Linked DNA regions of Homo sapiens. The protein of the gene in region 1 purifies or fractionates together with the protein of each later gene. This does not show direct contact. Each region holds a gene or a part of one and is shown in the gene's direction. Other genes may lie near its edges. The genes, in order: CLSTN2, ZMYM1, LMAN1, PC, NUP37, SLC12A7 and CUX1.

Evidence for each region.
Region 2: the proteins of CLSTN2 (region 1) and ZMYM1 purify together in Homo sapiens (affinity purification with mass spectrometry; one large-scale study listed by BioGRID and IntAct). This does not show direct contact.
Region 3: the proteins of CLSTN2 (region 1) and LMAN1 purify together in Homo sapiens (affinity purification with mass spectrometry; one large-scale study listed by BioGRID and IntAct). This does not show direct contact.
Region 4: the proteins of CLSTN2 (region 1) and PC fractionate together in Homo sapiens (co-fractionation; one large-scale study listed by BioGRID). This does not show direct contact.
Region 5: the proteins of CLSTN2 (region 1) and NUP37 purify together in Homo sapiens (affinity purification with mass spectrometry; one large-scale study listed by BioGRID and IntAct). This does not show direct contact.
Region 6: the proteins of CLSTN2 (region 1) and SLC12A7 purify together in Homo sapiens (affinity purification with mass spectrometry; one large-scale study listed by BioGRID and IntAct). This does not show direct contact.
Region 7: the proteins of CLSTN2 (region 1) and CUX1 purify together in Homo sapiens (affinity purification with mass spectrometry, with the first as the bait; one large-scale study listed by BioGRID). This does not show direct contact.

The regions. Positions count from the first base shown.
Region 1 is NC_000003.12:139,933,589-139,938,330, forward strand, and holds the start of CLSTN2 (calsyntenin-2 precursor), read left to right. Parts: upstream 1-1,596; 5' UTR 1,597-1,786; coding exon 1,787-1,895; intron 1,896-4,742. UniProt on the Homo sapiens protein: Postsynaptic adhesion molecule that binds to presynaptic neurexins to mediate synapse formation, and which is involved in learning and memory.
Region 2 is NC_000001.11:35,103,116-35,107,242, forward strand, and holds part of ZMYM1 (zinc finger MYM-type protein 1), read left to right. Parts: intron 1-1,179; coding exon 1,180-1,354; intron 1,355-1,441; coding exon 1,442-1,654; intron 1,655-4,127.
Region 3 is NC_000018.10:59,356,016-59,360,614, reverse strand, and holds the start of LMAN1 (protein ERGIC-53 precursor), read left to right. Parts: upstream 1-1,349; 5' UTR 1,350-1,370; coding exon 1,371-1,584; intron 1,585-4,599. UniProt on the Homo sapiens protein: Mannose-specific lectin. May recognize sugar residues of glycoproteins, glycolipids, or glycosylphosphatidyl inositol anchors and may be involved in the sorting or recycling of proteins, lipids, or both.
Region 4 is NC_000011.10:66,871,384-66,875,510, reverse strand, and holds part of PC (pyruvate carboxylase, mitochondrial precursor), read left to right. Parts: intron 1-3,351; coding exon 3,352-3,487; intron 3,488-3,639; coding exon 3,640-3,824; intron 3,825-4,030; coding exon 4,031-4,127. UniProt on the Homo sapiens protein: Pyruvate carboxylase catalyzes a 2-step reaction, involving the ATP-dependent carboxylation of the covalently attached biotin in the first step and the transfer of the carboxyl group to pyruvate in the second.
Region 5 is NC_000012.12:102,096,115-102,099,614, reverse strand, and holds part of NUP37 (nucleoporin Nup37), read left to right. Parts: intron 1-414; coding exon 415-509; intron 510-3,500. UniProt on the Homo sapiens protein: Component of the Nup107-160 subcomplex of the nuclear pore complex (NPC). The Nup107-160 subcomplex is required for the assembly of a functional NPC.
Region 6 is NC_000005.10:1,105,352-1,109,478, reverse strand, and holds part of SLC12A7 (solute carrier family 12 member 7), read left to right. Parts: intron 1-1,493; exon of another isoform or gene 1,494-1,985; intron 1,986-3,849; exon of another isoform or gene 3,850-3,921; coding exon of another isoform or gene 3,922-4,036; intron 4,037-4,127. UniProt on the Homo sapiens protein: Mediates electroneutral potassium-chloride cotransport when activated by cell swelling. May mediate K(+) uptake into Deiters' cells in the cochlea and contribute to K(+) recycling in the inner ear.
Region 7 is NC_000007.14:101,820,443-101,824,569, forward strand, and holds part of CUX1 (Homeobox protein cut-like 1), read left to right. Parts: intron 1-4,127. UniProt on the Homo sapiens protein: May be involved in intra-Golgi retrograde transport.

The DNA.
Region 1 (4,742 bases):
GTGTGAAATGAGAATAATAGCGCACATGTTGATTTGTGGGCTAAAGGAGACCTGAAGGTAAAGAGCCCCACATGGGTCTGAGCCCCATGCAGCCACCATGATTCACTGCTGTCCCCAAGCACATCCTGGTGCCTGAAATCCTGAAGAGTTGGCTTTCACCACTGCAGAGGCTCTGAGTGAGCTGCCAGGGCAGCAGAGGGAGGCTGAGCTGCAGGAGTGCTGTTAATGGATTTTATGGCTTTGTTGAGTACCTCAAACTACAGTTATTAATTAGAGGATGCTGTTTAGGCACTCTTGCAATATATACATTTTGTTAATTGATTTGTATAGGCTCATAGCTAGCAACATAAAGAATGTGCAGGACCATAACACTTACAAGGGATTGTAATTGCCTTTGCTGCCCTCTCTGGCTCCCCAAGCAGGGAACAAAAGCTTTGAGGATAGGACCCACTCTCTCCTCTGTCTTTGGATCTCCAACGACTAATCCAGTGCTCACTGTCAGGGTGATACAGCCTGTCTAGATGCTCAGCAAACGTCTTGAATCAATGACTAAATAAATAATATTGTTTGTTTCTGTATTTCCATATCTACTTTATTTCCAAACTATTCCTCATAAACCCTGCATTGTGTGTGATGTTGGCATTTCATTTAGGTAAATATGGTCAAGGATTTATTCTGAGTCCTTACTGTTTTTTTTTTTTTTTTTTTTGAGTACCTTTGTAATTTTTTCACGGCCTAGAGATGGTTGAGGATGCAAAGATATGCACTGGCTCCTGCACTCAGGGAACTGACAATACTCAACGGCACGAGATTTTACAATGCATGACGTCAAGTAGCCTGTTCTTAGAGATGCGGAGTGACAACATAAAGGTGGCAACTTCTTGCATGGCACCATACCGCAGGGAATTTTAAGTTTGACACCCCGCCCCCGCCACTGCAGCCTCAGCAGGCCCAGCACCCCAAGTTTTCTGATCTAGCTGTTCTATCAGCCTCTAAGAGCCGCGGCTGCCCCTGCTTCTCGGAGATGACGCGGAGCCCTGCCATTGCCATCCAGGTCCAAGGCTATCTACTCTGCCCGACAACCCCTAGCACCACTAGGCGCTGCTCTAGTGTGCGCCTGGCGCCCTCCCCAGACCAGTCGACGCAGAACGCCCAGAGACCCAGCCAAGGGCAAGACCCTTAGCGACGCCCGTCAGTCCTCTCCGCCCAGATATCAGTTCAAAGGGCATGGCAGGTCAGGGTCCCTCGCGCCACCCCAGATGACCCTCAGGCCTCGGGTGGCCACTTTCTGGGGGAGCCCTCCATCCCTTGCGGCAGCTTTTCCGAGAGTCGGAGTGGAGGCGCGGGGCTGGAGGGCTCTCCGGAGCCGCCCACCAGGGTCCTCTGGGGGCCCGGTCCCGACTGGGCAGGGGGACCTGGACAGGGCCCCGGAGCGTGGAGACGGCTGAGGAAAGTTGGGGGTCGGGGCCTTGGGGCGGGGAGCGCGGAACCCGGCGCCGATGCCCGCGTTCATGAATATGCACGAGCCACCTCCCTCCCTCCGTGACGTCACGGGCCGTCCCGGGGTGAGCGCCTGAGCCGCTCCGGGTCCGCGCCAGTGAGCGCGGCTGCTGCCGGCGAGCTAGCGGCGCAGCGGCGGGAACCCGAGGCCGAGCGCCGCGGCGGCAGCGCTAGAAGCGCACCCATCGGGCACGGCGAGGCGGCCCACGGTGCGGCAGGCACCGGGAGGCGAGAGCCGGCGCGGACAGTAGGCGGCGGCTGCAGCTCGTTGGCGGCTGCTGCGAGGATGCTGCCTGGGCGGCTGTGCTGGGTGCCGCTCCTGCTGGCGCTGGGCGTGGGGAGCGGCAGCGGCGGTGGCGGGGACAGCCGGCAGCGCCGCCTCCTCGCGGCTAAAGGTGGGTGCTGGGGAAGTTTGCTCTTCTCCCAGGAGGGAGGCAGGGCAGGCTTGAGGGTGAAAGCGGCAAGGACCTAGGCTCAAGCTGGATTTGCCCACCCTCCCTTGCCGCAGCTTCTTTGGCCTCTGTGCGCCCTGGATTCCCGAAGTCAGTTCCCTGCGCAGCGGACCAGAGAGGTCCACCCGCGGACGTCAACTCAACCCCTGGGCGGGGTCCGGGGGCTGAGCAGAAGGCGAGGTCTGGGGAGTACGGACAACTTTGAGGGCTGTCTGTGCCGGGGTGGGAGCGCAGTGGGTGAGTTTCGAGCTCTGGCCCAGGGACGGCTAGAGCAGGGCGCTGGCGCGCCGTGGGGACAAGCAGGTGTCTGCTCCTGCCTGGGGGAAGGATCAGCGGCGGTGCTTTCAAGGAGGGAGCCGAGCTGTGACTTGTCTCCCAGCTCGGGGATGGAGTGGAAACTTGTAGGCTCCAGGGAAGGCCCCGCTGACACTCCTCAAGCTCCCCCAGGGCGTCTCTGACTCCCCGGGGAACGTGTACCCTCCGGGTAGGCGGCGGGGTCCGGAAGAAGCGCGGGATGTGAGGCTCCCCGCTGCCTTTCCTACTCCGCTCTGACTACCGAGGACCGAGGAGCCTAACCTGGCACCACTCCCCTGCCCACCCTGTTCCTTTGAAGAGCTTGACCTCCCCGCGCCTCCCGCCCGGAAGGAAGCTAGATCCAAGCGAACGCCTGGCTCTGTCAGGCGAGCCTGGAAGCCGGCGAACCCCGGACTTTGACAGCTGCCTGGGAGCGTCGGGAGCTCTGGGGTGGGGGGCCGGGTCTGAAACAGGAGGTCACGTGCTTGCAGGGGGTGGGGAGGCGAGGGAAGAGCAGAGCTGGTGGGGAACAGTGGTGGGCTCAGGGGAGGCTGTGGCAGATCCTAGCTGGGGCGCACAGCTTAGTGATAACTTGTTGATTCTCTGCGCTGTTCATAAGTAGGGCTTGCGTTTGGTTTGTGGACTGTGGCCAAATCCGCCAGGTGACAATGAGGGGTACTTGGTCCCCAAATCCTGCCTGGCAATCATCAGAGGGCGGAGGGGTTTGCGCCTGTCAGAAAATAGATTCCCTGTTAGAGACAGCCTGATTCGGACGCTTGCTTTGAGCTACACTTGACCACTAGCTTAGGGGAGGAAATGCCTATCAGGCTGCATTACTCTTGGAGGTTGGGGAGAGCTGGAGGCAGGCAGTTCGCCTTGTCTGGGCTTTAGAAACTGGCCCTCCAATAACTTAGGAGTGATATATTTGAGAAGAACATGGGAGATTATGTTTATCTGTAATTTTTAAATTTTTTGGTGTCATCGTTTTGAAAATATTTTATAAGCAGGCATTCTGTTTCTTTTCAGCATTTTTTTTCTTGGTGTATCTTTGACAGGCAGTTTCTATTTTTAGAAATGAGAAATTTCATGAGAGAAAAACTCGTTATGAAAATATCTCAGAGTGCGGTAAAGAAGTGGCTGATATGAAGGGATCAAGCTGAGAGACTGTTGTTTTGGTGAAGACAAGAATAAAAAACAATGAACTTCCAAACATCTCCCCCCTGCTTTCCCAATATAGACACTTTGTTAAACAGGCAAATTACTTTTTTGGGGGGTGGGGGGGAGGAGATTTCCCATCACTTTGTAGCACAGTAATTGATATAAGCAGATGTCTGCAAACGGGAGTTTGAAGGAGGGTGAGAAGCACACAGCAAGTGCAGAACAGGGAAGAAATCATTTGGGAAGAGGATCTGGTGTGAGTAGTAATAATGCACGGCTGAGTTCTCAGGTCAGAATGGGAAGCTTCATAGAGGTAAGCGAGAAAGAGAAGGAGAGAGATAAAAAAGGAAAATAAAAACCCCAGGCTTTCAATGATTCACTTTATGTGGATAATTATGTGCATTTTAACCAACATCCGACTTAGAACATATTCATTTTTTGGTTAAAACTAGGCATTTGTCAGGTCGGGCATGGTGGCTCATGCCTGTAATCCCAGCACTTTGGGAGGCCGAGGCGGGCGGATCACCTGAGGTTAGGGGTTCGAGACCAGCCTGACCAACATGGAGAAACCCCGTCTCTACTAAAAAAAAAAAAAAAAAAAATTAGATGGGTGTGGTGACACGCACCTGTAATCCCAGCTACTCGGGAGGCTGAGGCAGGAGAATCACTTGAACCCGGGAGGCAGAGGTTTCAATGAGCCGAGATCGCGCTATTACACTCCAGCCTGGGCAACAAGAATGAAACTCCGTCTCAAAAACAAACAAACAAACAAACAAACTAGACATTTGTTTTTCCAGGGTAAAAAGTTTATTGGCCCTGCAGATTGAGAGTTAACTGTCCGAATTCCCCTTGTTCTCGCTTCTTTCCCCTTCCAACCACTGGGGGGCTGCAAAGAGCTCTGTTTGCTGCTGATTTTTTTTTCAAGATAAATGTGTAATATTTGATTACAACAGAGACATTTATTATGACACTTTAGTTAGTATTTACAGGACTGACTTTCCTTATAACAATGCACTTGCATTTTATGTTTCCAAATCATATGATCTCTGAAGAATGTTTGAAATGATAAAGCTGTATGTTTTGTGTATAATGCACCCTGCCTCTGACTTTGCCATTTTTAAGGTTCATACCATTGTTATTCCCATCACAAAAAAAAAAAAAAAAAAATCAGGAAGGCGTGTGAAGATTGAACAAAAAACCAGATACTTCTTTCGTACAATTCTGTATTCATGTGTAGAAAAACACTGGGAGTCTGGAGTCAAGCTTTCTGACAGAGTTGAATGCACCCTCCAAACAACTGTCTGGAAGCATGTGCTCCCAGCTTCAGTCTTGTGTAAG
Region 2 (4,127 bases), on another chromosome or scaffold:
TGAAATTTGTATACCAAGAAATTAACCATTTCATTGGCATTTAGTATATTCATAATGTTGTGTGACCATCCCCTCTATCTTGTTCCAAAACATTTCCATCACTTCAAAGTAAAACACCTTAAACACTAAGCAGTTTCTCCTAATTTCCCTCTCCCCCCAGTGCCTGTCAACCACCAGTATGCATTATATCTATAGATTTTATCTATCCTGAATATCTCATGTAAATGGAATCATATATGACCTTTTTGTGACAGGGTATTATTACTCTGTTGCTCAGGCTAGAGTGCAGTGACTTTTTGTGTCTGGTTCTTTCCCTTAGCATAATATTTTCAAGGTTTGTCCATGTTGTAACATGTATCAGTACTTTATTCTTTTTGTTAATAGGCGAATAATATTCCACTGTATGTATGTAACACAATGTGCTTATTCATTCATTCACTTACTGATGAACATTTGGGCTGTTTTCATCTTTTGACCATTGTGAATAGTGCTGTTATGAATATGCACGTACATGTGCTTGTTTGAGTACCTGTTTTCAGTTTTTTTGGGTGTTTACCAAGGAGTGGGATTGCAGGGTCCTACCATTAGCTTTGCAACATCAGTTGCAAAGTGATGTTGCAAACATCAACACGGTGAAAAAGCAAATAACATCTTACTATGAAAATAGTTTTGATCTTGGGGACTCCCCCAGGGATTTGAAGACCATATTTTAAGATTCTCTGTCCTATAGATTCTAGAGTTGCTCATGTGAATATGTGATCTCTCATCATCCCTCGGTTTTCACTAGCACCACCTAATAATACAGGCTGGCTAGTCTCCAAAACTACATCTTCAAAGTCAGGCATGGTGGGATTATGTGCCTGTAATCCTAGCTATGTGGGAGATTGAGGTGGGAGAATCTCTTGAGCCCAGGAATTTGAGGCCAGCTTGGGCAACACAGCAAGACCCTATCTCTTAAAAAACAAAACTGCACTATTAGATGTGCTTTATAATCTGTAATGTATAGATGAGAAAATTAAAATTTAGGGAGTATAAATGTGACAGAACTGGGTACCAAATTCAGGTTTTCTTATTTCAAGGCTAATGTTCTTACTCTAATTTGAGAGGTCATTTCATTTATAAAGAGAAGTTATAATTGTGTTTAAACTGTTTAATGATGTCCTTGTTATTTATTCTTAGAGACATTTTAAATCCAAAGGATGTGATTAGTGTCCAGCTGGAAGACACTACCTCTTGCAAAACTTTTTGCAGCCTATCTTGTCTTTCATCATATGAAGAAAAAAGAAAACCATTTGTTACCATATGTACTAATAGCATTTTGACCAAGTGCAGCATGTGCCAGAAGACTGCTATTGTAAGTTCCAATTATAACCTTTACAGGGATTCTGATGATTCTGCTTAAATATCAGAGTTTTTACTGAATCTTTTTATTAAATCCTAGATTCAGTATGAAGTAAAATACCAAAATGTGAAACATAATCTTTGCAGTAATGCCTGCCTTTCAAAGTTTCACTCTGCTAACAACTTCATCATGAACTGCTGTGAGAACTGTGGCACTTACTGTTACACCAGCTCTAGTCTGTCCCACATACTTCAGATGGAAGGACAGTCTCATTACTTTAATAGTTCAAAGAGTATTACAGCATATAAGCAGGTATGAATAAAGACCTATTGTTTCTTCTATTAACTGGCCTATGAATGGTTTCACTCTAGGAAAATGTGGGAAGTAGTTTTTGGTACCCTTTGGAATAATGTCGATAAGTTGATGAAGATGAAATAGAAGGCTTTTAACGGTTTCTTCTTGCATAAGAATTCATGATAAATGCTATATGGAGATTTTCCTAAATAATCTCAGATCGATTATCTCACCTTAAAGAAAAGGCAGGCAGGCTGGAGCCGGTTTATAAACTAGAAATAAGTATAGCAAAAATAACAATAGTCTGCTGGTCAATAAAACCCAAACACAAAAGTATTTTTGTTTTTATTTTTATGTATTTATTTTATTTCTTTCTTTTTTTTTTTTTTTTTTTTTTTGGTGAGATGGAGTCTTCCTCTGTCACCCAGGCTGGAGTGCGGTGGCGCGATCTCGGCTCACTGCAAGTTCTGCCTCGCGGGTTCATGCCATTCTCCTGCCTCGGCCTCCCAAGTAGCTGGGACTACAAGCACCCGCCACCACCACGCCTGGCTAATTTTTTGTATTTTAAGTAGAGATGGGGTTTCACTGTGTTAGCCAGGATGGTCTCAATCTCCTGACCTCGTGATCCACCTGCCTTGGCCTCCCAAAGTGCTGGGATTACAGGCATGAACCACCACACCTGACCTTATTTATTTTTTTTGAGACGGAGTCTCGCTGTCTTGCCCAGGCTGGAGTGCAGTGGCACAATCTTGGCTCACTGCAACCTCCGCCTCCCAGGTTCAAGCAATTCTCCTGCCTCAGCCTCCCAAGGAACTGGGATTACAGGCGTAAGCCACTGTGCCCAGCTATTTATTTTTTTTATTTATTTTGATTTTTTTGAGACGAGGTCTTTGTCAGCCAGCTTGGAGTGCAGTGGCAATCATGGCTCACTGTAGCCTTGACCTCCTTAGCTCAAGTGATCCTCCCACCTCAGCGTCCCGAGTAGCTGGAACTACAGGCACACACCACCACACCTGGCTAATTTTTAATTTTTTTGTAGAGACAAGCTCTTACTATGTTGCCCAAGCTTGTCTTACAACTCCTGAACTCAGCTGATCCTCCTGCCTTGGTCTCCTAAGGTGCTGGGATTACAGATGTGAGCCTAGCCATGTTTTTGTTTTTAATTCCACGTGTTTAACTCTTACACCAAACAATGCAAAGATGAATCAAGAATGTCACATGTGGACAGTCATGGTGGCTTACACCTGTTATCTCAGCACTTTGGGAGACCAAGGCGGGAGGTTCAGTTGAGCCAGGAGTTCAGAACCAGCCTGAGCAACATAGCAAGAACCTGTCTTTAAAAAAACAAACAAAAAATATCACATGCTTTCTCTGAGTCAGTCATAGGAGGAAATAATCCAGTGAGATTAGTATTATTTGTCCCTATTTCTGATAGACAAGCTCTGGGTGGGTGCTTCTGAGAGCAGAGAAAGAGCAAATGAGATGAGGTGGGACTTCTTAGATATGTTGCTTGTTCATATCATATTTTGAGACCCAACTCTATCCCTATACAGACTTCCTTAAAAACAAGCAGTTGGCCGGGTGCAGTGGCTGATGCCTATAATCCCAGCACTTTGGGAGGCCGAGGCTGGCCGATCACCTGAGGTCAGGAGTTGGAGACCAGCCTGGCCAACATGGCGAAAACCCGCCTCTACTAAGAATACCAAAATTAGCTGGGCATGGTGGCAGGCGCCTATAATCCCAACTACTTGGGAGGCTGAGGCAGGAAAATCTCTTGAACCCGGGAGGTGGAGGTTGCAGTGAGCCGAGATGGCACCATTGCACTCCAGCCTAGGCGACAGAGTGAGACTCCGTCTCAAAAAAAAAAAAAAAAAAAAAAAGCAGTTGAAGATGGGAGTCAAAACAAGCCATAATTCAAATAGATCATTTGTGACTCACATCTTTTCTATGGCCCCCATCTTGAGAGTATCCTGCCTTGGGACCAGAACGGAAAGCACAGAAGACTTCTCCCAAAGGCAGGAAATAATATTCCTTTTTTTTTCTTTCTTTCTTTTTGACACTCAATAGGCCTTGTTCTGGGTTGTTTTTTGTTGTTGTTGTTGTTGTTGTTTGTTTTTTGAGACGGAGTCTCGCTCTGTCGCCCAGGCTGGAGTGCAGTGGCGCAATCTCAGCTCACTGCAAGCTCCGCCTCGCGGGTTCACGCCATTCTCGTATCTCAGCCTCGCGAGCAGCTGGGACTACAGGTGCCCACCACCACGTCTGGCTAATTTTTTGTATTTTTAGTAGAGACAGGGTTTCACCGTGTTAGCCAGGATGGTCTCAATCTCCTGACCTCGTGATCCGCCCGCCTCGGCCTCCCAAAGTGCTGGGATTACAGGTGTGAGCCACCGCGCCTGGCCGGCCTTGTTCTGTTTTTAAAAGCCTATATGCCGGGCACGGTGGGTCACGCCTGTAATCCCAGCACTTTGGGAGGCTGAGGCGGGTGGATCAC
Region 3 (4,599 bases), on another chromosome or scaffold:
TATGGAATCTTCACTCTGTGCAAGGCATAGAGCTGGTTGCCAGAGCAATGAGAGAACCAAAGAAAATAAAATGATTAAATCCTATGGGTTGAAAACCATGGAGAGTCCAGGGCAATGACGCACATACACCATACAGTGGATAAATGTTTGTTACTGCTGCTGCTGAGATAGCAGTAAGTATGGTACTTTCATTTAAATTACATCTCGAGACTAGCAGGCGGAAAGCCTTAAATCCATATTCAACTTGAAGGTTTTATTTGAGCACTAGAAAGAGATTTAACAGTAATGGCCCATGAATCCGAAGATGGGATTCAACTTCCAAAACTGGGAAGTTAATGAAAAATAAGTTTAAGTAATGCGGGTATTGAGTCCCTAGGGCTAGTGTGGCGTTCATGTAGCCCACACGAACAGAGCTAATAAAAAGCCATGTGTAAAAACAATATAAATCATACTGCTGTTTCTTGGACTTGAAAAACTCATCATGACACATTTTTGAAAAAACAAAACTTTGGATTACCATGAATATTTTGACGATATTTTTTCCTAAGCAAGGGAAAGAGGAGTCCCCTTTAAAATATAGAACGTATTCATTGAGTGGAAGACCGATCCTATATCAAATGTCCAGGTTCTACAGACGCCTGGGTCCATAGCACATTATCCCTCTCACCAAAACCAAACCAAACCAAAGTCAGTTTCATTTGAATGCACTCTTGCCATGGTTTCAAAATTTGGAAAGCTCTTGGAATTAAATTTTGAGATGTAAAGGCTGGCTGACAAATTCACAGAAACCCTCTTTCCGACACCAACTTATAAATCCTAAGGCATCCTACAACCCCGTGGGTGCTGGTTTCTAGTTTGCAACGCTCTAACATAGCTTGGTAGAGCTCAGTGGGCTGGGACCATAAGCATTCGGGATTGTGCCACTGAAAAACTGATGTCACATCAAAAGGAACACCTTTCTTCTAATATACTAAAAAGGTTTTGTACAGGCTGGGTCCAGAGGTCTTAGGGCTAGCCAATTCCTGCTCCCAGGTATTCTAAGAAGCCGGAGAAAGCTCCCTGCAGGTAAGGACCCATCGGCGCTTCCCGCACTCTGCCGCGCGGGAAGCGAAGGTTGGAGTCCTTTCCCCACCCCCGGAGGGTGGGCGGGGCCGAAGGACCGCACCGCCCCAGACCCGCCCCCTGCGCGTGGCCCCGCCCACAGCTGCTCCTGGCCGTGCGGCCGCGCGGAAAGCGGAGGCCGGGGGCGGGGCTCACCCCTTGCCCTTGGGGGTCCCCCGGGCTCTGCCAATCAGCGAGCGCCCTGTTGGCCATCCGCAGCCATCCGCGCCCCTCCCTCTCCCGCCCTCCTCCGCGTTCCAGAATCCAAGATGGCGGGATCCAGGCAAAGGGGTCTCCGGGCCAGAGTTCGGCCGCTGTTCTGCGCCTTGCTGCTGTCACTCGGTCGCTTCGTCCGGGGCGACGGCGTGGGAGGAGACCCCGCGGTCGCGTTGCCACATCGCCGTTTCGAGTACAAATACAGCTTCAAGGGGCCGCACCTGGTGCAGAGCGACGGGACCGTGCCCTTCTGGGCCCACGCGGGGAGTAAGCCGGAGCAGAGGGCTGGGGGCCGGGTTCCTCTCCCCCTTCTGCTGCCTCTTCGCCTTTCATCCGCGGCTACCCTGGTGTGCTGAGGTTCCCGTTCCAGCAGCTGCACACCATATGCGCTGTGGAGGGGACCCTCCTGGCAGCCCCTCCGCCGGGTCCCTCCTGGTTCGCACGGTTCCCTCCGCTTGTCCCCGAGTCTTTCCCTCACCCATTCTGTTCTCTCTCACCCGCCTGCTGTCTTCCCTTCTTTGATCTCGTCGGTACTTTCCGTTGGATCTAGAGGTGTTTGGTTACCTCCTACACTTCCTAGCACTCAAACTTGCTTCTAGGTATCATGTTTCACAACGCCACGTCTCTAGGAGAAATGTGCCCTACCCCCAGCCATCCCAACCTGAGACATGTTCTAGAAGCCCCCTTACTTCCTTTCCCGCTTCCACCCCCCACCCCCGATCCCCGATTTCTTTGCTCCGGTGTTAGCAATGGTTAATGCTTCGCTTGAACCCCATGCCCACTGACGGCTCCTGAGATGGCATATAGTAGTATTAGAGTAATTTTTTAAGTCTTTGTATGTCAGAAGACATTCTTATACTGTTGGAACTACACATTTTCCTCTCAGTGACTTGGTGTGGTCTTTGATCTTTTCTCTCGTAGTAACACATTATGTAACTTTTTAGGAGAAGGGATATATTTTTAGGGATTGATTGTTTCTGAACCTGAGACTAAGAATAGCATTACATTTTTAGCCCTTTAAAAAAATTGGAAGCATTGAAATAATCTTGGGTTCATATTTTATTCACTCTCTGTGTTTGGCACTTTTGTAGATAAGAGAGCCTTGCTAGAGCATTTACTTACGTGAAAGAAAACATATCTGCACTTTTTAGTGCTGATGTGTCACTGCTGACTAAGGAGTCAATCGTAGCACTTGGCATGACATAAGCTCTGTTCAGTGACCATCAGATATACCCGTTGAACAAGTGGCAAATGCCTTTATATGAGATGAGGAGCTCTGGCAGTTTGAATTCTATCTTTGTGTGTGATTAATCTTTTTTTTTTTTTTTTTTTTTACTATAAGGTTTAGGGTACATGTGCACAACGTGCAGGTTGGTTAGTATGTATACATTTGCCATGTTGGTGTGCTGCACCCATTAACTAGTCATTTAACATTAGGTATATCTCCTAATGCTATCCCTCCCACCTCCCCCATAAGTAATCTTTTATATAAGGTTTTTATACATCACTTTAGATTATCCAGTTCTTGAAACAAAATGTTTCATTTCTAGAAAGTAATTACTGAATAGGAAGCACCCTTTTAGGAAGCGCTATTTCTCTCAAATTAATGTGTAATTGAAAGGTATAGATTTTAATTTGACTTAATGACCAAGTCATTAAGTAGTTGAAGTAGAGTGCAGTTATTTCGTTACTCAGCAGTCATTTATTATGTGCCCATGCAGCAAGGGTATATTACTGGGCATTTGTTATCAAGGTATCTCTATTCTTGATACACAAAGGTGATGCAAATGATATCAAACACAAGTTTTTGGAGTTTTTGTTTCTATTTGTGGGATGATGAATTATTCAGTAGTGATGGATTTGTTCACACATTTTCACTTCTACACCTCTCCACTGCCTGCCTGTTCTTCTATCCCTTTTCTCTTTTTCTCACACTCACATACACTACATTAGCCAATTAGGAATGTTAATCAACTAGTCAAATCAGCTACCTTGACTTCCTTTACAGAGCCGGAACCAACTAATCTATTCTGCTGCAGAAATGTCAAGATAATGTACCAGTAAATTAAAGCCGTGTGGCTAGAATGAATTTGAAACAAAGTATTAGTATTTTAGCCATGATTTATCTGGCTACTGGCTCTGGGAATCTCTGCTATAGACATCCCTTGCTTTCATTGTCACTGTAGTTTTTGCATAAGCCTCACTGTAACTACATTGATCATTTTTTTCTTTTCGTTTTGCTCTGCAATTCATTACTTTAAAAAAAAAGTAGAGAAATTTAAGATCTAGTTTAAACACAGCCCTTTACCTTCAACCCCAAATTAAGACCAAATCTATGGTGTTTCTCTTTCTTAACTCTAATGTTCCTTTAGTACACTTAAGGCCATAAGGGCAAAAAATGATAATTTGTAACCCTTTATAGCTCTCAGAGTTCTTTCACTTTCATTCTCTGATTTGATCCTTAGTAGACAAGGCGGGTGTTATCTGTTTTATAGATGAAAAACTGATGTTCAGAAAGGTTAAGGTTTTTGAAAAAGGATACATAAGTAGTAAGTGTCAGTGAAGTTGAACTCAAATCTAGGTCTTCTGATTCTGTGTTCAGTCTCTTTCCATGATGCCCACACCCCATCCTTTGAATGTTTGTAAGTAACAGTGAACAGTGACTGATCCTACTAAAGTATCTCAGCTTTCCTTTTTGTCAACTTTTTTCTACCTGTAAAGTGAGATTACAGTTACAGTTGTATTTCCCAGCATGGGTTTCAGAATTAGTTAATATCTGAGAGCTAGAATTGTTCAAATTTTAAGTCTGATAGACCTTTAGTAATTACCTAGTCTAATAATAGGAGAAATAGCTAACATTTATTGAAACATTTAAAGCTACTTGTGTAGGCACTTAAATACCTATGAGGCTGTTCAAGAAATGGAGTAACTTGCCTACAGATCAAACAGCTAGTAAGTAGTAGAGCTGGGGCTTGAACCTAGCCTGGAGATGTAAACCACCGTTTTAGGGATCACTATTTTCTCTGAGAATCTTCTGAAGAATTGCTTTTTGAAGTTCAGTTGACCCTCTCCATGGAAGAATGTATATAAGTACAGTATTTTGCATATAACTTTTAGGGTGTTTATGGAAGTGATCGAGCCTAGCTCCTTCATTTTACAGGTAAACATATGGTGAATCCAAGAGAATAAGAGAATTATTTGCTCAAAGTCACACAGCTGAACTGAGACTAGGAACAAGTCTCTTGATTCCTAGTGGTATGTTCTTTTCACACTGTTTGAGCT
Region 4 (4,127 bases), on another chromosome or scaffold:
TGACCCACTTCTCCCAGGCTGTTCTCTCCCTGGCTTCAGACACCACCGCCCCTGTGATGCTGCCCAGGTTCTTGTCCCTGCTCTTCCCCCTCTGTGAGCTTGCCTCACTCCCAGCCCTGCCTTTTCTGTCTTGCCCTTCTTATAGCAGGAAAAGTCATCTCCACCCACCCATACAGGATTTCTTCCTCTACCTTGCTTTCTATGGGGGGTCTCTCGACGAATCTTGTCTGTCATAGCCCAGATGTTTCCTAAGCCCCACCCCGACCCCCATAGCTTCCCCCTGTCAGAGGCTCCGCGTCTCTCAGCTCAGCCTCTGAATTGCCCCAGACATGCGTCGTCTGTCAGCCCCTGCTGCTCGCCAGTCCAGAGAGATCCTTTCCACTGTGCATCGATCATGTCCCTCCTGTCCTGTCCATGGCTGAAGGGAGGCCTCAACCACTGGGCCCTGTCTGTGGCTGCAGCCCCACCTCAGGCCGTGGGCTCACACTTCCCTCTCTCAGGACAGCACCAAGCCTGTTCTTCCTGAGAACTTCACAATTGCTATCCCTTCTTCCTGGAGCTTTCTCTGCGGATCTGTGCGTGGCCGACTTCTCCCCATCCAGGTCCCAGCTTCTGTGTCCCCTCCTCAGAGAGGCCTTTTCTAATATCCAGCCCCCAAACCCCTGCACCCGCCCCAGATCATTCGCAAAATGTCACCTGTTTCTTATCTTCCAGGCACTTGTGATCTGAAATGTTCTGATTTGTGTCTTGTTTTTCTTTTCTTTGCTCCTTTCACTGCCATTCATCTTCCATGAGCAGAACCCTTCACTGTTGTGTTCTCGACTCCTAAGGCTTAGAACTGTGCCTGGCATAAGGTCTGCCCCTAGTGGGGTTTTCTGTTTTTCTCCCCTGGCTGTGGGTCTTTCCTCCTCCTCCTCTTCTCTTTCTTCTACTTATTTCCTTGTTTCTTCTCTTTTCTTTTTCTTCTGTCTTTATTTCCCCTTTTCTAGGTTGTTGGCTGTAATATGGCACTAAGGTTTTTGCAATATTTGTTTCATTTCTTGAGTATGTTTTTATGTTCCTTACTTAAAACAAAATGGCTGAGTCAAGTGTTTTAAACGTTTTCTAAGAAATGAATCAGATCGGCCGGGTGTGGTGGCTCACACCTGTAATGCTAGCACTTTGTGAGGCCGAGGCGGGTAGACCACTTGAGGTCAGGAGTTCAAGACCAGCCTGGCCAACATGGTGAAACCCCATCTTTATTTAAAATACAGCCAGGCGTGGTGGTTCACACCTGTAATCCCAGCACTTTGGGAGGCCAAGGCAGGTGGATCGCCTGAGGTCAGGAGGTCGAGGCCAGCCTGGCCAAGATGGTGAAACCCTGTCTCTACTAAAAATACAAAAATTAGCTGGGCGTGGTGGCGGGTGCCTGTAATTCCAGCTACTCGGGAGGCTGAGGCAGGAGAATCACTCGAACCCAGGAGGCGGAGGTTGCAGTGAGCCGAGATCGCACCATTGCGCTCCAGCCTGGGTGACAGAGCAAGACTCTGTCTCAAAAAAAAAAAGAAAAAAGAAAAGAAACAAAACAAAAACAAAATTAGCCAGGCATGGTGGTGCATGCCTATAATCCCAGCTACTTGGGAGGCTGAGGCAGGAGAATTGCCTGAACCTGGGAGGCAGAGGTTACAGTGAGCAGAGATCATGCCATTGCACTCCAGCCTGGGCAACAAGAGCGAGACTCCGTCTCAAAAGAAAGAAATGAATCAGATGGTTAGATGAGGCCCAGATGCAGGGGTGAAAAGAGTGTGTCTGGTTTGGCTTGGGCTCTGTGCTGGGCAGCTGTCTTTTTAGTCTCCACTGTACCTTGGTTTCCTTCATTTTACAAATGAAGGGCTGGCCAACCTCTGAAGCCTCTTTGCATTCAGGGATATAAGTTGTCGTCAGTTGATTTAAATATATATATAATATTATATAATATTATAATATTATATATAATATATATTATAATATATAATATAATATATAATATTATATAATATATATAATATTATATATTATATTATATATAATATATATTTTATATATAATATAATATATAATATATATAATATATTATATATATTTATATTATATTATATATAATATTTTATATTTTATATATAATATATTATATATAATATATATATATTTTTTAAAGATGGAGTCTTGCTGTGTCACCCAGACTGGTACAGTGGTGCCATCTCAGCTCACTGCAACCTCCACCTCCCAGGCTCAAGTGATTCTCATGCCTCACCCTCCCAAGTAGCTGGGATTACAGGCATGTGCCACCATGCCTGGCTAAGTTTTATATTTTCTGTAGAGACAGGGTTTCACCATGTTGCCCAGGTGGGTTTCAAACTCTTGAGCTCACACAAATGTGCCTTGGCCTCCCAAAGTGCTGGGTTTACAGGTGTGAGCCACCGTGCCCAACCTGAAGTATTATACTTTTTTTTTTTCCTGGGACAGAGTCTTGATGTCACCCAGGCTGAGGGCAGTGGCGCAATCTCAGCTCACTGCAACCTCTGTCTTCTAGGTTCAAGCGATTCTCGTGCCTCAGCCTCCTGAGTAGCTAGAATTACAGGCGTGTGCCACCATGCCCGGCTAATTTTTATATTTTTAGTAAGAGGCGGGGTTTCACCATGTTGGCCAGGCTGGTCTCGAACTCCTGATGTAAGGTGCTCCTCCCACTTCAGCCTCCCAAAGTGCTGGGATTACAGGCATGAGCCACCGCGCCCAACCTGATACTTTTATTTTTTTTGAGACGGAGTCTTGCCCTGTCGCCCAGGCTGGAGTACAGTGGCACGATCTCGGCTCGCTGCAAGCTCTGCCTCCTGGGTTCATGCCATTCTCCTGCCTCAGCCTCCCAAGTAGCTGGGACTACAGATGCCCGCCACCACGCCCGGCTAATTTTTTTTTTTTTGTATTTTTAGTAGAGACGGGGTTTCACCGTGTTAGCCAGGGTGGGCCAACCTGATACTTTTAAAAGTTATAGTGCATATTATGCTGGGTACGGCAGCTCACACCTGTAGTCTTAACTACTCAGGAGGCTGAGGTGGGAGGATCATTTGCGACCAGCCTAGGCAACATAGGGAGACCCTGTCTCTACAACAATAAAGTCACAGTTAGGATATCAGGCTGAGCTGGGGGTTCCATTTGGGGTTGGATTTGCTCCCTTCTCTAGAGCCAGGAAATGTTGGGCTTGGCCAGGCATCAGGAGGTAGATGGTGCTAGCCTTTCTGTGGGGCCACTGTGGGGTTGGGAAGGGCCCTCACTCATTCTGAGGAGCCTCAGTGCTGAGGCTGCGCTAACCTGGGCTCTAACTTCCCTCCCTAGATGCTGAAGTTCCGAACAGTCCATGGGGGCCTGAGGCTCCTGGGAATCCGCCGAACCTCCACCGCCCCCGCTGCCTCCCCAAATGTCCGGCGCCTGGAGTATAAGCCCATCAAGAAAGTCATGGTGGCCAACAGAGGTGAGCACCAGTGGGGCCGGTGAGAGGAGCCTCATGGCCGCCCCAGCCTTGGCATTCTTCTCCCACTCACTGCCCCAGGCCCTGGCTTCCCACTCCCCTTTCTGCTTCTCCTAGGACCTAGGAATCTAACTTCTTGTTTCTTTGCCCTCTAGGTGAGATTGCCATCCGTGTGTTCCGGGCCTGCACGGAGCTGGGCATCCGCACCGTAGCCATCTACTCTGAGCAGGACACGGGCCAGATGCACCGGCAGAAAGCAGATGAAGCCTATCTCATCGGCCGCGGCCTGGCCCCCGTGCAGGCCTACCTGCACATCCCAGACATCATCAAGGTGGCCAAGGTGAGCCCAGTGGCCTGGCTGGGCCTGGACAGCAGGGACCAGGGAGTCTTAGTTGCCGCGGGGGTCTCTTGAGGCTGGCGTGCTCAGCGCCTCTGTGCGTGGGTGGGTAAACGGATGCAGCTCAGCAGGTTAGGCAGGGGAAGAGGCTGGCCGAGGCCTTGGAAGGGACTGCAAGGTACCGTCCTCTCCCTGACCCCCACCTGCAGGAGAACAACGTAGATGCAGTGCACCCTGGCTACGGGTTCCTCTCTGAGCGAGCGGACTTCGCCCAGGCCTGCCAGGATGCAGGGGTCCGGTTTATTG
Region 5 (3,500 bases), on another chromosome or scaffold:
TATGCAGAACAGCAGATATAATGTAAAAAGCCTAGAGGTACCCTACCTCGGTACCCCTAAAAAGTTTTCTAGCTCTAATTTTTATTTAGGCTTTATATAATAAGTGAGAAAGGAGGTGATATGAGGACAGGTACAATAAAAATGTGTGTGTGTGTGTGTTTTTGTAAGAAATGCATACTAGAAAAGAAAGACTAAGCTAATAGTGTGTTGAATGATCAATTTTTTTCCCAAGATAAACCTTCTAGAAAAGTGGGTGTATAAATCGTGCTTTAAAAATAGCGGATTGCTTAAGAAATATTTATAGAAAAACAGGCAGTGAAAGCTTTTAAGGCAGTGAAGCAAAAATATTATGTAGGAATATTGTAGGTTATTTTTCTGTTTTCTTGCTAAGCTTTCTGTTTCTCTTTCTGTCAGGTTTTAGAGGGCCATACCGATTTCATTAATGGTTTGGTGTTTGATCCCAAAGAAGGCCAAGAAATTGCAAGTGTGAGTGACGATCACACCTGCAGGTATGTTGCTTATGTTATAACCACATTTTTAAATTGCCATTTTAATGAGAATTACATTTTTAAAATGAGAAAAAAAAATGTGACTTTTACATAAATTCTATAGAGTGTTGTAAAAGAAGCATACCTTATTTGAACTGTAGGTATGGCACAAACATGAGTTTCAAAACCAGTGAGATAGTCCTCATCACCATTAATGAAAACTTCCTTGCCTCCCATGGGTGTCTTTTATCTCTTATTTCAGATTTTCACATTTATGAAATCCAAATCTATATTGGACTGGGCACAGTGCCACATGCCTATAATCTCAGCTCTTTGGGAGACCAAGGTGGGCAGATCACCTGAGGTCAGGAGTTAATGACCAGCCTGACCAACATGGCGAAACTCCATTTCTACTAAACATACAAAAATTAGCCAGGCACGGTAGTGCGCACTTGTGATTCCAGCTACTCGGGGGACTGAGGCAAGGGAATCGCTTGAACCTGGGAGGCTGAGGTTGCAGTGAGTCAAGCTTGTTTCACTGCACTCCAGCCTGGGTGGCATAGCGACACTCCATCTCAAAAAAAAAAAAAACACAAACATATTGGATCAAATTCTTCAATATTGGACAAGATAAGTAGGAGTAAAATGCAGTTGTCAAGTTACTTTACAGATGCTGTATGATAAGTTTGTGTGGAATAATGAACTATGACTCTCATCTGCTACATAAGATTGATGGAAAATTTAGTGTTTTGATAAATTCAGAGGTTTCTGCATAAGGTTTTCTTTAGATACAATACATTTAACTATTATGTTCTTCTACCTCACCCCCTAATTTAGAACAGATGAGGTAGCTATAACATTTTAATAGTGTGTAAAGCTGGAGAATATCACAAATAAAGAACAAGATGAAAAGGAAGAATAGCAGGTGGAAATAAGCTGAGGAGTCAGGAGTGAAATGAGTGCATCAGTCATTGGAAGGGTGTCAGTTGCTTCATTTGCTTTAACGATACTGTGAGGGAGAGAAAAACTGCTGCTCTGCTGTTTTGCATAATGTTTCATAAAACTATGCCAAAATCCTTAGTATTTATTAGTACTTATGTACATATAAAACTATGAAATATGTATGACTTCACATTAGAAGTAAAGCTGCTAGCTACTTTTTAAATTTTTAATCTTCTTAATATAGCTCATCTTTTTAAAGTGATAGAGTCATAGGCCATTATTCTTTATGTACTGCCTGTTAAAATTTTCATGTCAGAGATATGAAAGATTTACATGACATTAAGATTCTAGGGCCCCAGGTACTACAAAACCAAGTTTGTATAGTGACCTGAAGAGTAAATGGAATCGTTTTAAGGTAAAAATTCGGTCACTGGAAATAAATAATGGCATTTCAGCTCTTTAAAACATAGATTTTCCTAATCACAAGCATTTGGAATAATGAAACCTGCAAAGGGGAAAAATGAGTGTCTTTGCAAGCCAAGGAATGGCCTCTGAATAGTGAACGAAAGCCGGAGAGACCTAGGATCACACTCAGTAGTCTATGTTTTTGTTTGTTTGTTTTCTTATGACTCTGAGATTTTTTTTGTAAACTAGCAAAATTCTCTAAAAATTTAGGGGACTGACATAGGGTTGCTAACTTTTTATTTTGTCGAATATAAGACTTAAGTTTACTGCCTTCTACCACTATCATTTTGTAAAAGAAAGGACATTATTACTCTAAAAAGTAGGAAAGGAATAACTAAAGAGTAAGTCTTTTAGTTTAAATAAATTTAATTTTTTAAAAACCTGACTACATTGCCTCTAAGTTTCTCATTTTGCCAGACTGGTTGTTGATATTATTGTTCAACAAATATTTGCTTTCCTTTCACCTTCCCATGAAAGGAGATTTTCCCATCTAATTAGCCCTAGCTTTGTGAATTGTTTAGGCCAATGTAGCATTAACAGGTGTGACACAGCAGAAGCTTCAAATGTTTTGCCTGGCTTGACTTGACCTCCTGTGCTCTGTCATTTGCTATGAGATGAGCATGTCCTAGATAGCTACTGATCCCAGAATGAGAAACACGTGGAGCAGATATGGACCCATATGGCATTATGGAAACAGAGCTTCCCATAGACCCATGTGCAAGAAATTTATGCTTATTTCTGTAAACCACCGAGATTTTCGGGTTGATGCACAACATCAAACTAGGAGTATTTTTAGAATTTACAGCTTAGTTCACCAACCAAAAATAAACAACTCTGATTGGTTATTAAAGCCAAACCTCTTAGGCCAAAACCTAAGCAATATAGGTAAGATTTTTTTAAAAACAGAACGTATATAAAAACAAGTTTAAAATGAGAAAGAGTAGATAGTATCATACACTCTCATAGCAAGGAAAGAAGGAATTCTAAGAGGACATATGTGATAATGTAAGATTCTTACAATATCACATATATATTCTTACATTATCACATATGTGACAAGAGAGTATATCATATGAGCAGTTCTACAATATGTATTCTGTACTGTAAAGAGCAGACCCAGTGCTTACTTAAGAAAATTTAAAATAACCTCAATATTTTGATCTATGCATATTTTCTGATGTTTCACTTTGACATTTCCAAGAAAGACACTATATTATAATCAGCTAGCAGAATTTTGCCCTAGGAACACTATTTTAAAACAATCTGTGACCTGAATAGGTTCATGAAATGTATGTGTTGTATTGAAAATTGCCAAATTCTGAATCAAACAGAATAAAGAGTCGTACTGTGAACAAAGGTACCTCTGATAATACAAAATGTTATTATGGAAGATGATAGATTACATTTTATCTAAGACTCCATCTAATTTTACTATTCTATGATCTGTGCAAGTTTATAAGAAAATTGGGTTCTCATTAAAGTTGGTCTTTATCAGTTCCAACACTGCCTTTCTAACAAACATTTTATAATGCCTACCACACCTTTTTAAATGAAACTCACAGAAAATGTAGCCTTCCAAATATATAAGTACAGAAAATTATTATC
Region 6 (4,127 bases), on another chromosome or scaffold:
CGGAGCTTTTATTCTTATGTGAAATACCTCGTCTTGAAATGAGAAGGACGTGTTAACCCTCAGTTTCTCAGTGGGGTGGTTTTTTGAGAGTAGGAGGTGGGAGGACACTGCTGGGGGCCGGCTGCGTCTCGTCCGACTTCAGGGTAGAGTGGGTTTTGTAACTGACTTGGGGGAGCCCACCCTTCCTCCGTGACCACATCAGGGTAGACTCACTCCTTCCCAGGTTGTAGGGGTGCGTCCAGAGGCCTCGGAGACCCTGGGAGGGGTGGGAAAGGAGGGCTGGCCAGTGCCCCGGCCTGTCTGGAAGGTGCAGCGTGCAGAGCCTCTGTCAAGGTCCCACAGGCCCTGGCCACCCACTGTCTAGGAGGGACTTCCACTCGTCTGGGGCTCCCTGGGCTGGGAGAGGGTGGGTCCTGCCTTGTACCCCCAGGTCTCCCACCCTCAGCTGGGGCTCTCCCAGGTTTGCCGGGAGCTTCTTCCTGGCTTGGGCGCCACTTCCCTCTTTGGGTTCCGTTTCTGAGATTTTCCACTGTGGCTGAGCTCGTGTCGGTTGTCCAGGGGCGGTCCTGCCTCCCTCTGCCCCTGGCCGCTGACAGAGGCCCGGTTGCGTGGTCAGTGGCCTGCCCGTCCCTCCTGCTCCAACTACCTACCGTGTCCGTGTTGGGAGCCCCCTCCCAAAATCTGAGGACAGCTAGAGCTGCCGCTTTGTCCTGGGCCGTCCTCGCCTGTCGGGTGCTGGGTGCCATGCTCTGCACTGCCCTTGGGAATGGCGAGACGGTGCACGCCGGTCGTGCTGATCTGGGGTCCCCTTTGGGGATGCAGGGACTTGGGGGATCACGCATTAGATAGGGGGACCACACACAGAGCGTCCAGGTTCTGTCCTGCCGAGTAGGGACAGAGAGCTCTCGTTGTGCCCAGATTTCAGGAGGGCGTTCCCGACACGGACATGGGAGGCAGTCGGAGCAGGAGGGACAGGCAGGCTGTTGACCCCGCGGCTGTGCCCGGGAGCCCCTGCAGCAGCTGGGCACTGCGTTGCGGGAACGGAAGGTCATGGGTATGTGGTGAGCAGGCAGGGAGGCTACAAGACATGCATTTTGTGTATCGAGTTCCCTTTTTAAAACCAAAGGAAACAAGATACACAGGAACGCCGTGGCTGCTGGGCATCCAGGCCGGGGCCTGTGCTTCCTCCTGCGCCTGACATACTCCCAGGCTGTCTCCCGGCAAGAGGCTCTCCTTAGCAGGCATGCGGTAAAGCATGGTGCTTTAGGTCAGCTGGCCGGGTCCATGTGTGCGGGCACCTATGTGCCTTGTGAGCGTGCAGGTGTATCCACGTGTGAGCCATGTGCTTGCACTGTGTATATGTGCACATATATGTACACACGTGTGCATACATGTGTACTGTGCTCTTGCACAGCTGTGTGCTGTGGGCATGCTCACGTGTGTGTGTGTATGTGTGTGTTTGTATGCTGTGGCAGGTAGAGAGGGGCTGGGGCTTCCTCCACAGCAGAGGGTCACGCGGTGTTGGGTGTTGGGTATCCGTTCCCTCCCCCTGGTCTAGGCCCATCAGTGAGTGGTGAGGGGCTCCCTCTCCTGGTGTGGCCTCGTGTTCAGGTCTGAACCTGCTCCTGGGCCTCTGATCATATGAGGAGACCTTTGCCTCGTGGACTCAGGTTCATGGTTTCCTCTTCTGCAAAGCTCCCCAGGCTTCTCTGAGTGGGCGAGGCCAAACGGATTCCACGGTGGTTTTCTGTCTAGCGTTGGACACCAGATCCCCTTCTTAGAGTGCGTGGCTTTCTCAGTGCCTCTCCCGTGGTCTGGATGGCTGTCGGGAAGGTGGTGCCAAGGGGAGGGCCAGGTGCTCAGGCCTGGGTGCAGGGCGGCTGGTCGGGGCCGAAGTCACACAGGTTTGCTGGGGATCGGTGAATGTCGGAGACCTTGCCAGGTGGTGGCTGGAGTCAAGCAGAGGCACCTGAGGGACCCTGAGGGTGAGTTGGGGGCTGTCCTCCCCTCATGCCCGGCAGTGAGTGGGCCGTGGAGTGAGGCCACCTCTGTCAGGGCCTCTGCCCTTTGGACGTGGGGCCACGTCCTACACAGCTCCCTGGACCTGACCCAGGGATTCCCAGATGGCCCAGGCTCCTGCATGGGGGATGGGTGGCCTTTGTAAAGCACAGAAAGCGACCCAGGTGGGCCTCAATCACTTGAGAGGTTTATTTGCCGAGGTTAAGGCTACGCCTAACACAGAACCACGGGGAACTCCTGTGGTCCGGCTTTTCTTCTCAAAGAAGGCTGAGAACTTGAATATTCAGAGAGTAAAGCGTGAGTATTAGGGGAAGAAAGAAAGAGAAAGAAGAGGGAGGGCAGATAAGAGGCAGGCAGCGTTTGATCAGCGTTCACTGAACCCGTGTGTTACACATGGGGGTAAAGGAAGAACCCCTCACGGCTCACGCTTAGTGACTCTGCACATTTACCTTCGACACAGTCAGTACAGGGTGGGCGAAGCAGTGAGGTGTGCGTTTGCCTCCGGCGAGCAGAGCAGCAACTCCTGGTTCTGTCCTTGGTCCCACACCCGTGAGGATGAGCTGTCATTTCCACCGTCAGTGTGAGTTTCATCACAACTGCTTTAGTGTAAGGATCCTGTGGGTCCTAAAATATGAGGGAGGCCTGCAGCTTTCTACACAGGAAGAAAATGGAAGGCAGCTTGCGTGACCCGGTTCCCAGCCTGACTCTTGCCTGTGGCTTAGTGTGTTTGGGTCCCGAGATCCTGTTTTCCTTTCATACCTTGGACCAGGGAGCCTTCCCAGGGCTGCTGTCCTTGGGCACTGCAGACACATCCCGACGTGGCACCGCTGGGCACAGCACTGGGAGTGGAGGTCAGCCCAGGGTGACCCCCCAGCTGTGAAGGGCACGAGTGGAGCCGACACCCCAGGGATGGATGGCGTCTGTGAGGCCAGCTGGCTGCCCGGAGGGCTCTCCTGTTACCATCCCTGTTGGAATATGAATTTTCTTTTTTTTTTTTTTTTTTTTTTTGAGACAGAGTTCACTCTGTCACCCAGGCTGGAGTGCAGTGGCACAGACTCAGCTCACTGCAACCTCTGCCTCCCAGGTTCAAGCGATTCTCGTGCCTCAGCCTCCCGAGTAGCGGGGACCACAGGCACGCACCACCGCGCCTGGCTAAGTTTTATATTTATAGTGCAGATGGGGTTTTGCCATGTTGGCCAAGCTGGTTTTGAACTCCTGGCCTCTAGTGGTCTGCCCACTTCGGCCTCCCGGAGTGCTGGGATTACAGGAGTGAGCCACCATATCTGGCCAGAATATGAATTTTCTAAGCTGTGCCTTAGACCGAGGTCTGGAGGGCAAAGTTTGATGTTTGACGTTAAGTATTAACCACAGTTCCTGGCTGGGTGCTTTTGATTTCAACCGGCTCCATCAGCTGAGTGTTTCTGAGGGTGGATCCCAGAGTCATTTTGTGACGGCCGTGTGGTGGGTGGGGCAGGAGTCCCTGGGTGCTGGGGAGTGTGAGGCCCGCCAGGGCCTTGAGGGGTAGACCTCCCCCTCCCACTGTGGGGCATGGGAACCCCGTGGAGCCCAGTGGGGCTGGGCGTGGACGGCATTCAGGAGTGGACCAGCTGGTCTTCAGGGCAGTGGGCTGGGCTGGGGGTGTCTGGGGCCTGGTGAGCAGCTGGCTGGGGGCCCTCCTGGTAACTGACATGGGGGGCTGGTCTCCTTTGGCCTTCCTTCTCAGATGCTGGGGAAGTGCTGCCCAGGGACAAGGGCAGAGCACAAAGGGTTAATACCTTTCCTTTATGAAGAAAGGGGAAACTCCCTTTTGGGGGCAGAGGCCTGTTCTGTGCAGATAAACCTCTGGCTTCAGCGCAGCAGCCTGAACGATGAGCTCCTGAACGATGAGCTGCCTGGCTGGCCATGCTGTCCAGGCCCTGCCTCTTCCCCTGTTTGTGGCCGCTGACTCCCCAAGGGTCCTGGAGCCTCTGGCCGGGAGTGCCGGGGGGCAGGCCCACGGCAGGGTCCCCTTTGGCTGGTGGGTGACTGCAGGACCTCATCCCTGTGGGGAGGGTCCTTTTGGCTGGTGGGCGACTGCAGGACCTCATCCCTGCAGGGAGGGTCCCCTT
Region 7 (4,127 bases), on another chromosome or scaffold:
TATGTAAAAGGCAACTCTAACCATTATTCAAATATACAGGATCCAGGATCGTGAGTTATTGTAGAAATTACTTAAGACCTATTTAAAATTATTGAATACATAACTTTAAAAAATGTAATTGCTCTATGAAAAGTGACTTTTATTATAATTGTCAAAGACAGAAATTTGTCTGTCTTGTCCTTTTGTTTTGTCTGAAGCCCCGCGTTATCGCTGCAGAGAGAGAGTTTTGGTTTCCACCGAAATTTCCCTGCCTCCGATTGTTTAAACCAGACCCTTAATCTTATTTTAACATATTTAAAATGTTCACAAAACCCGGAAGAATTGTTTTGTGTAAGTAGCAAGCGAGTGTAGCTTAAACACTCAAGCAATTCTGGTATCTAATTGGAAACAGGTGGAATTCTTGGAATCCCATGTTTGAGTCTTTTTATAGCAAAGCCCAGGGACACTTTTCACTTATAGCCATTCGTTTTGTCGAAGCTATTTGAAGAGGGGCCCCACAGCCTCTCCTTATGTCCCACTGTTGCTTACCTGGACAAAGCAGTCGTGCTGGGCGCTTTAGGAACTGGATACCTGTGAATGCCTGGATGCCGAGAGAAGTGTGTGTGTGTGCCGATAATGGAGTGAAAAAGGAATCTAATGGTATAGTTAGACAAGCAATTTAATATCTGCATTGTTATATGACTTTAGAGCAAAGAATTTGTGAATTCATTTGTGATTTCTGACTTGATGAACCTTGACTGACCAGAGCATGTAGGTACATTTTATTATACCCCAATAATGATATAGAATTCAGAGAGAAGATACTCCCCCCCGCCCCCAAAAAAATTCTACATTTAGAGAATATAAGCTCCACCAGCAACCATAAAAGTATTAACTTGGTGAGGGGGATATTTTCTTTCTTTTTTTTTTTTTTTGAGACAGAGTCTCGCTCTTTCGCCCAGGCCGGAGTGCAGAGGCACTATCTCAGCTCACTGCAAACTCCGCCTCCCGGGTTCACACCATTCTCCTGCCTCAGCCTCCCGAGTAGCTGGGACTACAGGCGCTGGCCACCAGGCCTGGCTAATTTTTTGTATTTTTAGTAGAGACGGGGTTTCACCGTGTTAGCCCGGATGGTCTCGATCTCCTCACTTAGTGATCCGCCCGCCTTGGCCTCCCGAAGTGCTGGGATTACAGGCGTGAGCCACCGTGCCCGGCCCCTATTTTCTTTTCTTTTCTTTTTTTCTTTTTTCTTTTTTTTTTTTTTTTTTTTTTTTTTGAGACGTGGTTCTGTCGCCCAGGCTGGAGTGCAGTGGTGCGATCTCGGCTCACTGCAAGCTCCGCCTCCAGGGTTCAGGCCATTCTCCTTCCTTAGTCTCCCGAGTAGCTGGGACGATAGGCGCCCGCCACCATGCCTGGCTAGTTTTTTTGTTTTTTTGTTTTTTTTTTTTTTTGAGATGTAGTCTGGTTCTGTGGCCCAGGCTGGAGTGCAGTGGCGCGATCTCGGCTCACTGCAAGCTGAGCCTCCCGGGTTCACGCCATTCTCCTGCCTCAGCCTCCGGAGTAGCTGGGACTACAGGCGCCCGCCACCACGCCCGGCTAATTTTTTCTATTTTTAGTTGAGACGAGGTTTCACTGTGTTAGCCAGGATGGTCTCGATCTCCTGACCTCGTGATCTGCCCGCCTCGGCCTCCCAAAGTGCTGGGATTACAGGCGTGAGCCACCGTGCCCGGCCGATGTTTTCTTAAATATTAATGGCAGGGCCCTCTGGATTGACTGTGTTATTTGACCCATTCCAGTTTTCAAGGCGTGGTCTTGAAAAGCTGTCGATCACCCTGGTTTTGGGATGTGTTTCAGAACCAAGTTTCGATGGTGTGTCAGTGTTGGATTTTCCTGCTGAGGACAGCTAAGGTTTGGTATGGAGCAGTTTTGGATTTGCTGAGCTGTAATCAGTCCAGCTTCTCTGCTGTCTTCTGAGAAGGTTGATGGAGGAGAGTGGTCTTTGGCGGGGATGGAGGTTTCCCTGCAGGAAATGAACCAGGACTGAGGGGAACCTGTGCCGTTCCCCTCATTTGTCCTGCGCCTGAAACAGCTTTGAAGCACCTGGCTTGTGACTTAAAAGATTTTTAAAAAGCATTTGTGCTGCCCTATTCGGGTATTACACAGTGAGGGTGAACCATTCTTTTCGAAAGACGTCTAAGGCCGGGCACGGTGGCTCATGCCTGTAATCCCAGCACTTTGGGAGGCCAAGGCAGGCAGATCACTTGAGGTCAGAAGTTCGAGACCAGCCTGGCCAACATGGCAAAACCTCATCTCTACTAAAAATACAAAAATTAGCCTGGCGTGGTGGCGCATATCCATAATCCCAGATACTCGGCAGGCTGAGGCATGAGAATTGCTTGAGCCCAGGAGGTGGAGGTTGCAGTGAGCTGAGATCGTGTGACTGCTCTGCATGCAGCCTGGGTGACAGAGCGAGACTCTGTCTCAGAAAAAAAAAAAAAAAAGACATCTAATTTGTTGTAAAACCTGTCAAGAACCTTCCCTTTAAAAAGCTAATGCCTCTCTAATAAAAATAATTTTAATTTTGTTGTAATTAAATTCAGAGAGGATGATGTTAGTGCACAAAATAAAGATTGTCAATTTCTTTATTTTAATCCAACGGCATTTCCTAACTGCAGGAGGCCCAGGACCGTTGGCAGAAATTTTGTGTTGATTAGAGCCTCGGGCCATGGGAAGTGCAGGTACTGTGGCCACAAAGTTCGTCGCCCAATCCCTGGCTGACCCCACAAGCAGGACTGGTACAGATCCCACCCTCAGGGGTCTTCCTACACAGAGAAACATAATCACACAGGTGACTGGAACGGAGCCAAGGATGGTGGTGTTCCTCCTAGGGATTTACTAACACTGCCAGCAACTCAAGAACTAGCCAGCCGGGAGTTTCCTAGTAAGTGAAACTGACTTGGTTCTGCTTCCTTTCATGAAAACCTTTGTGAAAATGAGCCCAATAAGGGGTCCGAACCTTTATAAAGCACACGACCCCCCAGAGTGGACCGGGCCCTGGCCGACTCCATCAGCCGAAGCTTGAGATCTTGGATGGTCTGGATGGTCTTGACCGTGTGTGATTGATGCAGTTAACAAAGCAGGAAATTAACAGAGCTTACTCTGAGACACCAGGGAAGTGGCTTGTTCTTTCTTGGGGTTACTTTGAGTGGATGCTGGCACACTGCTTGTTTTCTTATAGATACCTTTCTATTGGGCTGTGTTTATTCAATAAGGAAATGCAGTTAACATTTTTTTAACAAGTAAACCATGGGTTATGAGGTGTTCCGAGTTTGGTTAAGGGAAAAACAAATTGACAAATTAGCTCTTTCTTAAGTGAGTATTGCGAAACAGTGAGAAATAGAATGCCTGTCGTACCGTCATTAAAAATTTATCTGGGTGTTGACAGCTTTTTGTTAAATGTAAGACATTCAGATCCTGTCCACCCAGCATATGAAAAAACCAAACCAAACCAAACCGAAAAACAAAATGCAACACAAAAGCTTCTTTCCATTTCCCCCCAAAAGCAAGACAATTTTTCTTAAACTGGGGCTTTCTCCCTAATGAATTGCCATGATTTTGTTTTCTCTAACATAGTTTAATATCTTTAAGACAGAACGAATATCAACTCTTTTTATTTTATTTTTTGAGACGGAGTCTCACTCTGTCGCCCAGCCTGGAGTGCAGTGGCACAAACTCCGCTCACCGCAACCTCCACCTCCCAGGTTCAAGTGATTCTCGTGCCTCAGCCCCCCCGAGTAGCTGTGATTACAGGTGTGCACCACCACGCCCAGCTAATTTTTGTGTTTTTAGTAGAGACAGGGTTTCACCATGTTGGCCAGGCTGGTTTCAAACTCCTGACCTCAAGCAATCCACCCCCTTCGGCCTCCCAAAGTGGTGGGATTACAGGTGTGAGCCGCCGTGCCTGGCCTCCACTCTTTTTAGACACCTTTGTTGAGTTGTTGTTTTGGGCCTGTAAGTTTCTCTGGCTTATTACCACTTTCCCCTCCTGTTTCTAGGGAAGAAATGATTATTTAGATAAAAAATAATTTGATAAAAGGTAGCAGATGATACCAAAGGTAAATCTTTGTCTTGAAGAGCCTGAAGCTGTG